3 linked regions of the Homo sapiens genome follow. The protein of the gene in region 3 purifies or fractionates together with the protein of the main gene of each other region. This does not show direct contact. Each region holds a gene or a part of one and is shown on either strand. Other genes may lie near its edges. The genes, in order: XPNPEP1, TRMT2B and VWC2L.

Region 1 (3,653 bases), on a different chromosome or scaffold from region 3:
TTCGGAAAGATCTCTTTGCTGCCAAGACTTGTGCTTAGCCCTCTATTCAGAGGCTGGTTATGGGGCAGCGGCCTTCTCTTGGCCACCCTGCCCTTGCAGATGAGGGGCGGGCACTGGGAGCATGTTATCACCTTACCTGGTATGTGATATGTGGGAGTCTCCCAGTTCCCAGACTTCACCAAATCACTGCCCAAATTCTCATCAAGTGACCAGTAGTGGGGAAGTGACTGAACGCTGAGGAGACAATCTTTGTGGTGACGCCATGTGTGTACGTGGCAGTGATCCCCAAGATATTTTTACAAGGGGTCAAGTGAAAAATCATACTTTTTTCCCTTCTGTCTCACCCTTGTCTTATGTTTTTCATACACAAAAACTTACACTTCTCCCTCTCTGTAGCCTTCCAGGATTAAGGGAGGTTCAGATTTTCTAAGTCCTGTCAATCCACTTTAAAGAAGCTGCTTAATAAAGACCCTGCTATCATGATGTTAGAGAATTGTATCTTTCTGGTGGGATAATGAGCGTGGGCCCACTGGGAATTGTTTCTTATCATTTCTTCCCCCTGTAGGTCTGAAGGACACACCAACTCAGGAAGACTGGCTGGTGAGTGTGCTTCCTGAAGGATCCAGGGTTGGTGTGGACCCCTTGATCATTCCTACAGGTAAGTGAGCTTGGTCCCTTTCTGCTTGGGTAAGGAAGTGGCTTCTAGATTCCCCTCCATTCTCCTCATTTGCTTGTGGGGTGTGGAGCACTGGGGGGCTCAGCATGACTGATTTTATAGTAGAGGTCAGGGTGAAGAGAAGAGTTCCACTGGTGGTGAAGATGTGCTTTTACAGTTCCTCATCCTGCACACCCAGCTCTGGGCCATGGCAGGACCACCTTTCTGAAGGTTCTGGACTTTCAAGGCCCTGCTCCCTGCCCTGCTGCAATGGGCGTTCGGCTCATGGCTGGGCCACAATGTGTCTCCTCAGATTATTGGAAGAAAATGGCCAAAGTTCTGAGAAGTGCCGGCCATCACCTCATTCCTGTCAAGGAGAACCTCGTTGACAAAATCTGGACAGACCGTCCTGAGCGCCCTTGCAAGCCTCTCCTCACACTGGGCCTGGATTACACAGGTCAGAATCAATGGTTCTGCCCAGCAGGGCCCCTGCCATTGTCCCCCCACCTCTTGCTATTGTCTCCAGCCTCGTCCTCCGAATCCAAGTCGAGTTGGAGCTGACAGGAGGATTTTGCCCTACTCTGCCCCAGTGGGATATTTGAAGAAGCAGGAGCTTTGTTTGTTTCCACTGTTGCCACCTACTTGCCACTTAGTTTGGCTTTGGTTATTTTCGCAAAGCTCGTTTGGGTGGCTTTTTGGGTGCTGCTGAAAAGACTGAGTTTTTTTTATCCACTCAGCTGCTAACTGCCACTCGAACGTATTTGATATTGGAAATAGAGCATAGAGGTTTCTAGGTTCCATTTCCCTTCTTATGTCAGCATTTGTAGATTTACCTTCCTAGGCCTTTGTCCTCCATCTTGTACCTTCTGCTTTAGAGGCTTTGGGGTGTGGGTGTGTTTCCTTGGCCTGTGCGATAGTGATGGGTAAGCAGCATGTTCTCTGAACCATTGTGTGGATTTATGAAGCAGTGAGGGGGCAGAGAGAGAGGCCTGGAGGTGGGGCTGCAGGGGAGGGCGTCTTGCTGTAGAAACAGAGGTAGATGGGGGATGGCTGTGGAATGTAGGCAGATTGCCCAGAGGGGTCCTGGGAAGAAAGCGTGACAGCCTAGATTCTGGGCCAAGTTTTAAACAGCATTCCCGAACTGATCTTCAGTGCAGCCCTGGGTGTGGGGGCAGCCCCAGCCTGCTTTCTTGTGTGACATCCTCACCAGAGGGGTATTGCGGAATGGGGAGGATGGGTCCAGTGAGTGGCCCAGGGTCAGCTAAATATTTTCCATCAGCGTGGTTTGAAGTTTTTTTCACTAGAGCAGAAGCTCTGACTTGTTGCTTATAGGAGAGGGGAGAGCAAATGTTGCTGTTCAGTACACATTTGGGTGCCTACTATCTGCAGGATGCTGTGCGAGGTGCTGAGTGAATAAGACAGATGCCCACCCTGCTCACAGGTGGCTGTTCCCTGAGTTATGAATGCTGCCCTGGTAGGGTGGTTGTGGTGGCAATGGGGTGAGCTCCTCTAGCACCACGATTTCATCTTGCAGAGCAACAGAGAGGCCTTGGCAGTGTCTGAAAGGGCAAGTGTGATTTGGAAGTGGTAATCACAGTGAGTCAGACTACAGGGAATTCCTAGGTCTTAGCACTGAAAGGCAAGTCTTGCAGCCCCCAGGAACATCAAGTGGTGGGTGCTGTTCCCCTGACCCCTGAGACTGGGTGAGTTCCCTTTGCTGGGTAGTGTGTTGATATAGGTCCCTGTGTGTCCCCTGTTGCATCAGTATTTACAGTAGTGTGTTAATTGCTGGTTTAATTATCTGTCTTCCCTTCTATATTGTAAGCCCCATGAAGACAGGGACTGGGTCTGGCTCAGATCTGTAACCACAGTGACCAGCAGAGTGCCTGGCACGTATCTATGCCTGGCAGATCTAGATGTTACACAGGCATTTGTGGGATGCGTAAATGAATGAATTTTACTGGTGAGGCAATCAAGGCTCACGACAGTCAAGTGGCTTGGACACTTCTTGTATAGGGCTTGAATCCAGGCCTCCTGCCTGTTTAAGTAGCGTGCTCCTGTAAGAAATGGTGCTGATTAAAGATGTTTAGGGTAGGTTCTTTCACTGGGTTCCTACTGCTTTCTGGGACCAGGGCTGGAGTTAAAGCACATTTGTTTCTTGCAGGCATCTCCTGGAAGGACAAGGTTGCAGACCTTCGGTTGAAAATGGCTGAGAGGAACGTCATGTGGTTTGTGGTCACTGCCTTGGATGAGATTGCGTGTGAGTGCTCTGGTTTCGCTGTTTGGGCATGTTACCCGATCTCTCCTTTGGGTCTCTGGGTATCTGTGTGTTCATGCCATTCAACTTTCTGAGTGGCCAGGGAATAAGAAGAAGACTACGTCACCAAATGGGTATAGGAGATGCCAACTAGGATGAAGGAGAAAGAATTACAGGGAGCTGGGGAGGGGAGTGAGGCTTGTCCAGAGCAGTATTACAGCTGGGTGATGCCCACCTCTGGCCAGTCCCTCAGGACCATGGCACCTCTGAGGAAGGGCATTTCCTACAAATATTTTATGTCTGTCAGCCTCTGTAGGTGTAGAAGTGGGCTCATAGGAGAGGCCTTCTTTCTTTACACTTGTCCTGTGGTTTCCTAAGGTCTTTATAGTGAGAATGTTCTGGGAGCATTTCTACCTCAGAAAACTAGGAACTAAAAGTTCCTCCCCAAGCCCTTTGATGTAATAGTAGTTTCTCAGTCTTTGGACCTTAACCCACCTTCATGCAGTTGTTCAGCACCTTCTTTCATCTAAAACCTGACGGAATCTGGTTGAACCTTCCTGTCCTGTCTTCTGGTTTCTGAGTGGATTTGACCCAGGGCAACTGAGAAGAGGCACTGCTTTATCTTTTTGCCTTCTCACTAGAGAATGAGACCCTACTGCAGTGTCCTCTCTCTTCAGTCCCTGCATCTTCCATCCACAAAACATTGTCAAGTGTGTCAGTGACTTACATCCCTAATTAACT
Region 2 (3,653 bases), on a different chromosome or scaffold from region 3:
TGAGAGTATTAACAGGTAGTCCAGCACAGGCCATAACCTCACTACACTCCAGCAGGCACTCATGTAGAGGGTCAGAAAATTTATGTGTCTATGTGTGTGTATGTTGTTTTTTAAATTTCCCACAAACTGTACTCATCCTCACAGCACTTGCATGCATTGTTACATCTTGTCAGTTTTGCAGGTTGGAGATGTTGAGGCATGAAGAAACCAAGTGATATGCTTTGAATCAGAGCCTAAGAAAGAGCAGTGACACATGTTGAGCACTGGCTGTCTTAAGCACAGTCCTGAACATGTCATATATTTGAATGCTTTTAATTCTCACCAAAACTGTGAAAGATAGGTGTTCTCAGTCCTATTTGTATAGATGGTGACACTGAGATTCATAGCACTTAAGTATTAATATCTTACCTAAAACCGCATAGCTAGTGAGAAGTAGAGCTGGGATTAGAACATGGCTCCAGCCGAATGTGGTGGCTCATGCCTGTAATGCCAACACTTTGGGATGCTGAGGCAGGTGGATCACTTGAGGTCAGGAGTTCGAGACCAGGGTGGCCAACATGATGAGACCCCCGTCTCTACTAAAAATACAAAAATTAGTTGGGTGCAATGGGGGGTGCCTGTAATCCCAGCTACGCGGGAGGCTGAGGCAGGAGAATGGCTTGACACAGGCAGCGGAGGTTGCGGTGAGCCAAGAATGTGCCACTGCACTCCAGCCTGGGCGACAAAGTAAGACTGTTTTTTTTTTTTTGGTAACAAAGAACATGGCTTCAAAGCCTGTGTTCTTAACTGTACTGTCTTGTTGCTTCTTGATGGGGGTGGGTGTTGAGTGGAGAGTGCTATCATTAACACCTGAACTCTGGGCCAGCTTAAGTGTATATTCTGTAAAAAATTTGAAATCCCCCAAATGTCACATGCTATGACAGTCACTTTCTTTAGTACTTTGTAATCATACAAAATGGTGTATGGGCTAAATATTGCAGCACCTATGTCGTCATCCTCCATGTTGCTTATTGATCATGGAATGTTAATTTAGCAATAATTTTCTCTGTGTGTGTGTGTGTGTGTGTGTGTGTGTGTGTGTGTGTATGTGTATAAATGTAAAATTCTGAATTAGGCTATGACTTAACATTGGGATGAAATCCAAGGTAGAGCTTAAGGGCAAAATACAAATTTCACAGCAGGTTAACAGAATGTCAGGCCAAGTCCATTCAAGTGTCCCAAGTACTTAAAATAGGTGCTTATGGCTGGGCATGGTGGCTCATGCCTATAATTCCAGCACTTTGGGAGGCCGAGACAGGAGGATTGGTTGAGTCCAGGAGTTTGAGACCAGCCTGGAAAACATAGCGAGACCCCATCTCTGTTTTTTTTTTTTAAGATGGAGTCTCGCTCTGTCGCCCAGTTCTGCTCTGTTGCAATCTTGGCCTACTGCAATCTCTGCCTCCCAGGTTCAAGCAGTTCTCTTGCCTCAGCCTCCCGAGTAGTGGGATTACAGGTGCCTGCCACCATGCCCGGCTAATTTTAGTATTTTTAGTAGAGACGGGGTTTCACCATGTTGGCTAGGCTGGTCTCGAACTCCTGACCTCAGGTGATCCGCCTACCTTGGCCTCCCAAAGTGCTGGGATTACAGGTGTGAGCCACCATGCCCGGCCAACCCCATCTCATTTTTAAAACAAACAAAAACCAGGTGCTTTCACAGCAATGTAGACATAACATAGAGTCCTGTGTTGCAAAGGGAGGCCCTCTACTTGTGTTCTCAATGTCACCCATGTTAGCTCTTCCAGCTTTTGTCTCATAGTTACTCCCATTGTTCCTTCTCCCACTCCCCTCTTTCAGTGTTGCCACCTCTACTCAGTTAAATACTGTCTTTAAACACGTCATGACAGTTACTAGTAATGCTTACTGAAGATATTTTGCCAGGTGTTGGACTCTGCTCAGAGTTTCACAAACATACCTGTCTAATCTTCTGCTAAGTACTTTTTTTTTTTTTTTTTCGAGACAGGGTCTTGCTTTGTCACCCAGGCTGGAGCATGATCATGGCTGCCTGGGCACAAGTGATGCTACCACCTCAGCCTCCCGAGTAGCTGGGACTACAGGCGCATGCCACCATGCCTGGCTAATATTTTAATTTTTGTAGAGACGGGGTCTCACTGTGTTGTCCAGGCTGGTCTCAAACTCCTGGGCTCAAGTAGTCCTCTTCTCTTGGCCTCCCAAAGTGCTGGGATTATAGGCGTGAGCCACACTGTACCTGGCCTAAGTACTTTTTTTTGCTGGGGGGACGGAGTTTCGCTCTTGTTGCCCAGGCTGGAGTGCAATGGCGTGATCTCGGCTCACCGCAACCTCCACCTCCCGGGTTCAAGCGATTCTCCTGCCTCAGCCTCCTGAGTAGGTGGGATTACAGGCATGCGCCACCACATCTGGCTAATTTTGTATTTTTAGTAGAGACAGGGTTTCTCCATGTTGGTCAGGTTGGTCTTGAACTCCTGACCTCAGGTGATCCGCCTGCCTCGGCCTCCCAAAGTGCTGAGATTATAGGTGTGAGCCACTGTGACCAGCAGCCTAGGTACTTTTTATTAATTATCTTCAACTCTTACAACCACTATATAAGGTAGATACCATTGTCTCCATTTTACAAGTGAAAAAAAGGAATGTCAGAGAGAATGATTAACTTGGCAACGGCCACCTAGGTAGTGAGTGGTGGGGCCAGTGGACCACCCAGGACAGGTCTGGCTGTCTGACTAGGATCTGTACTCCTAAAATCTCAAAGCCTTCATATGTCCCCACTGCCTGCCACTTCCCATTGCCTCCTTTCCCTTCTTTCTTTTGTCCCAGACCTAATGGATGTGATACTATCTTCCTCAGAGGTATATGCCTTGGCCTCCAGGCCTCCAGGCTCTCTTGACTCTCCTTCTGAGACACCAGCATCTCTTCTTGCTCTCCAAATATTACCTTTCTCCCTGATACAGTCATTGGCCTTTTGCTCTTGCCTTTACTCAAGGTACTTTAAAGAAAATTTTGTTTTGATTGATTGATTGATTTTTTTTTTTTTTTTTTTTGAGACTGAGTCTCACTATATCGCCCAGGCTGGAGTGCAGTGGTGTGATCTCAGCTCATTGCAACCTCCACCTCCCGGGTTGAAGCGATTCTCATGCCTCAGCCTCCCGAGTAGCTGGGACTACAGGTACATGCCACCATGCCCGGCTAATTTTTGTATTTTTAGTAGAGGCGGGGTTTCACCATGTTGGCCAGCCTGGTCTCGAACTGCTGACCTCAAGTGATCTGCCCCCTCAGCTTCCCAAAGTGCTGGGATTACAGGTGTGAGCCACTGCGCCTGGCCTGTTTTTTTTATTTTTATTTTCTTAATTTTTAAAATTTTTGTTATATTATTAATATTATTATTTTTTGAGATGGAGTCTCACTCTGTCACCTAGGCTGGAATGCAGTGGTGTTATCTAGGCTCACTGCAACCTCTACCTACTGGGTTCAAGTGATTCTCCTGCCTTAGCCTCCTGAGTAGCTGGGATTACAGGTGCCCACCACCATGCCTAGCTAATTTTTTTTGTTTGTTTGTTTGTTTGTTTGTTTTGTATTTTTAGTAGAGACAAGATTTCACTATGTTGCTCAGGCTGGTCTCGAACTCCTGACCTCAGGTGATC
Region 3 (3,653 bases):
TCTTACTAGGATAGCATTTTAGTCATATCTAGCTTCCAATTATACCCATCTCCCTCCTCTTTGCAGACTGTATTCATCCCAATCTCTGATTTTGCTCTGGCAGTTTCGTCTTTGGAATTTCAGTCTTCCCAGATCAATTTCAAGTACTTCTTGAAGAACAGGCAGCTCTACAAGATGTATAGGGTTAGCATCCTGAAGACAAATCTCTTGCTTAACCAAGCCTCATACTATTTTGATAAGCTTCTGCCATCACAATCTCTTGGGAGTTATATTGGGATTTCATAATCATATACTTAACTTTTACCTGCTTTTTCCCCCTTCTCTCTTCACATCGATCATGTCTTTCTTGTGAGCAGAGATTTTGGTTTCTAGATATCCTACTTTCAATTGTAAGTACGTCTACAGTATCTTATCTACTGAACGGTCTGATAAATGCTTGTTGGATGAATATATTTATGTGAAGATTATCTCATAATACAACCTCCCTAATTGACATATCAACATTATTATATGAAAGTTTTATGCATCTTTAATAATTAATGACTTGTTCCTTGCAAGCTGAGTTGGAAGAGAATCAAGATGACAGATTATGGCTAATATTTACTTAGAGTTGTATGGTTCATAGGGATAAGTAGAGCATTTTAAAAAGGTATGAGAATTCTTCATTTGAAAGTCTTTTAAAGTTGAACTTTCATTATAAAATGTAGGCAAAGCCATAGAGGAATTTAGAATTTAGAGTAAATCCCTGGATATTAGAGTTAAGAAGGAGGGGACAATCATTTATTTAATACCTATTGTGTACCCGTCATCACAAGGTTAGTGACTTCAGAGAAATTATATGTTATTAAGAATTTCCAACCTCTCCTCCTAAGGAAAGTGATTATTACAATGGCTATTTTATGGTCAATACCACTATGGATCAAAAAGTTTAAGAACTCCATTCAAAAATTTATATCCAAGTGATGAATTTGGGATTCGAATCCAAGTCTATCTGACCTTAGTGACAAACTGCTTTGAGAGATCATATAGTATGTTAGAATGGCAGCATTTAGAATTAAGATAAATAACTTGACAATTTTGGATAAGTAATTTATACTTTTTTGGTCTCAGTTTCTCATTCTGACACATTTGCCCTATATAGTCTCTAAAACTCTTTATGACTCTAAATTCTTGTTAAAAAAAGTGATATCTATTATTTTAAAAATCACATCAAAAATTTTATGACACAAAAAGCCAGGTGAAAAAGCTGTGCATATTAATGGATCATACATTAGGAAAGAAGTAGTAGGGATTAATTAGATTATAGTAGGGTTATAACGAGAAGGGGTACAGAAATTATTAACTTTTTCTTTAAATACCTCTATATTGTTTGACATGGTAACATAGTTATTATCTTTGTAGTAAAATCTAATAAATAGAGGGAAAACTATAGCATTTTCAATAGTGAGTTAAGTTAGACAATATTTTCTTTATTAAATACAGATTACCAAATTATATAAATCTCAGAAACTTATGTTTTTATTTGTGCTAGTTATGAAACGCTGTTCCTACAATACCCTTTTGTATTCTAGTCTAGATATAAATGCAGGTTAGAAAAGGGTGATATGACTGCTAGAATCAAGTGTGTTGAGTACTTCTACTTACTTCCATTAAGATGACATTAAAAATAGGTAATGTCAAAATATATACAATATTTTAGAGATCATAAAACCATTAATAAATGTACTCTACTCTCAACTATTATTTGGTGTCAACAATGATACTTTTACTAGACTCTCATGCTTTTACTTCTTAATTTTGTGCAATAAAATAATACACGAAAGACAAAAGTCGAGAATAACATGTCTAAGGAAGTTGAATGTCACAATTAAAATTTCCCTTTTGTCCTAAGGAATCTAGTTCCAATGACTGGGTATTCTTGGGTAAATCAGAACTGGCTTGAACCGCTAACCTGGTTCATTCCAGGTTAATAATGAACTAAATACAATTAACTATGAATACACAGATTATGCTAATGATGATCAGTTGAGACCTTTTTTCTACATACTGATTTCTGGCACCATTTGACCCTTGTGGTGAGAGAAGTTGGGTCAGTGCTAATAATGGAAATGTCTTCTCTCATACATAAACACCCACACTGAAAACTAGCTATATCTGCTTTTACCTCTAAGGTTCTGAGCACCTCATCACAGAACTTGGTTAGATGAAATGGGAACATTTTATATAAAGCCATCAGTATGACAGACACTCCAGGCACAAACTGCCATTACATTTAAGGTGGACATTTTTCATGTATTCATACCTTCAGGGTTCAGATCAGGCTTGTAGGATATCCCAATTAAAACTAGCCATTGGGGAAAAGAAAGTTCAATAAGGGATAAAAATGAACTCTAAGCTACTTTGAAAATATGACGCAAGCGTAAAAGAAAAACTAAAAAATACCAGGTAGGCTGAAAAAAATTACAGTCTTTTTTACTACTCTTTACATGGATTGTGATAAAAATTCAGTTCTCTGTGGAATCCTGAAAGCAAAAAATCCAGCGAGCAGAGAACAGAATGGGGATCTTGCTTGACCACAAGTAGGCCCAATGCATTTTCTTAATATGAGGACCACAGCTAAGAAGTATATCTCTGTAGCTTTTCCACACAATAAACAAATAATTCTAGACTATATTGTTAAATGACTTCAAATACAGGCTAATAAGCAACACACAAAACTGACACAATTAAAAAATTAATTTAGGAGACACATACACTATACACAAAATTGTTCCCATCAGAAAACATATTTTGTAATAACAGAGAAGAAATGTTTAAGGGCAAAAATAAAAGGTGTTAGGTATGCCCCAAATACTTCTGGGAAAAAAAATAAAGGTTATTGTGCAACTTAACAAATATGATCAACAAACCAGTTGGCCATTTGTTGACCATGGTGCTACTTATGGTAATTAGAATCAAATTGTATAATTTAAAGGGAAATTTTAAAGTACATTTTTCCAACTCTGACTTTAATGTAGCAATGTACTAAGCACGTGGTATGAAAAGTTGATATTTCAATAAATATGGAGGGTAACGCATACCTTAAATTCCTCCAAGATTTTGTAATTTTTCCCGTGATATTCACAGAAGTTTTTTACTTCTTTGCACTCAGGACAGCATCCATTGTGTTCCACTTTAGTACACTTTGGGTGAATTTTAGGGCATTCTGGTTGGTCGCAAACAGGTCCATCTAGAGCACAGACACATGGACAGTTGGAATGCCCAGGGAAAAATCGTTCTCCCAACTTGTATACAAAGCCGCTGTCATCGACACACCCTTTCCCTCGATAGTCATCAAAGATCAGATTGTCATTACTGGAGATCTGGTCACCTTCATCAGCAGGATAGTCTTCATGACTGATAGCAGCAGAGGTGACCAATCCAGGGATGACCAACAGAAGTATGCAAGCTTCATGAATATGAAGAGCCATCCCCCTCTTCAAAGACTTCTGGATGTGCTCCTAATATTAAATATACTCAGCTCCTTCCATGGGAATACAAGAGGGGTAGGCTGAAAATAAATATTTAAAAAGAATAATTTGACATATATAAAGTGAAGATAGATTCATTTAAGCCCACGCTCTTAAACTGTTTGGGATCAATTTGAAGATACT

The links.
Region 1: the proteins of VWC2L (region 3) and XPNPEP1 purify together in Homo sapiens (affinity purification with mass spectrometry; one large-scale study listed by BioGRID and IntAct). This does not show direct contact.
Region 2: the proteins of VWC2L (region 3) and TRMT2B purify together in Homo sapiens (affinity purification with mass spectrometry; one large-scale study listed by BioGRID and IntAct). This does not show direct contact.

Annotation. Positions count from the first base shown.
Region 1 is NC_000010.11:109,885,508-109,889,160, reverse strand, and holds part of XPNPEP1 (xaa-Pro aminopeptidase 1), read left to right. Parts: intron 1-565; coding exon 566-658; intron 659-968; coding exon 969-1,112; intron 1,113-2,819; coding exon 2,820-2,915; intron 2,916-3,653. UniProt on the Homo sapiens protein: Metalloaminopeptidase that catalyzes the removal of a penultimate prolyl residue from the N-termini of peptides, such as Arg-Pro-Pro. Contributes to the degradation of bradykinin.
Region 2 is NC_000023.11:101,045,546-101,049,198, reverse strand, and holds part of TRMT2B (tRNA (uracil-5-)-methyltransferase homolog B), read left to right. Parts: intron 1-3,653. UniProt on the Homo sapiens protein: Mitochondrial S-adenosyl-L-methionine-dependent methyltransferase that catalyzes the formation of 5-methyl-uridine in tRNAs and 12S rRNA. Catalyzes the methylation of uridine at position 54 (m5U54) in all tRNAs.
Region 3 is NC_000002.12:214,414,011-214,417,663, reverse strand, and holds part of VWC2L (von Willebrand factor C domain-containing protein 2-like isoform 1 precursor), read right to left. Parts: intron 3,551-3,653; 5' UTR 3,471-3,550; coding exon 3,081-3,470; intron 1-3,080.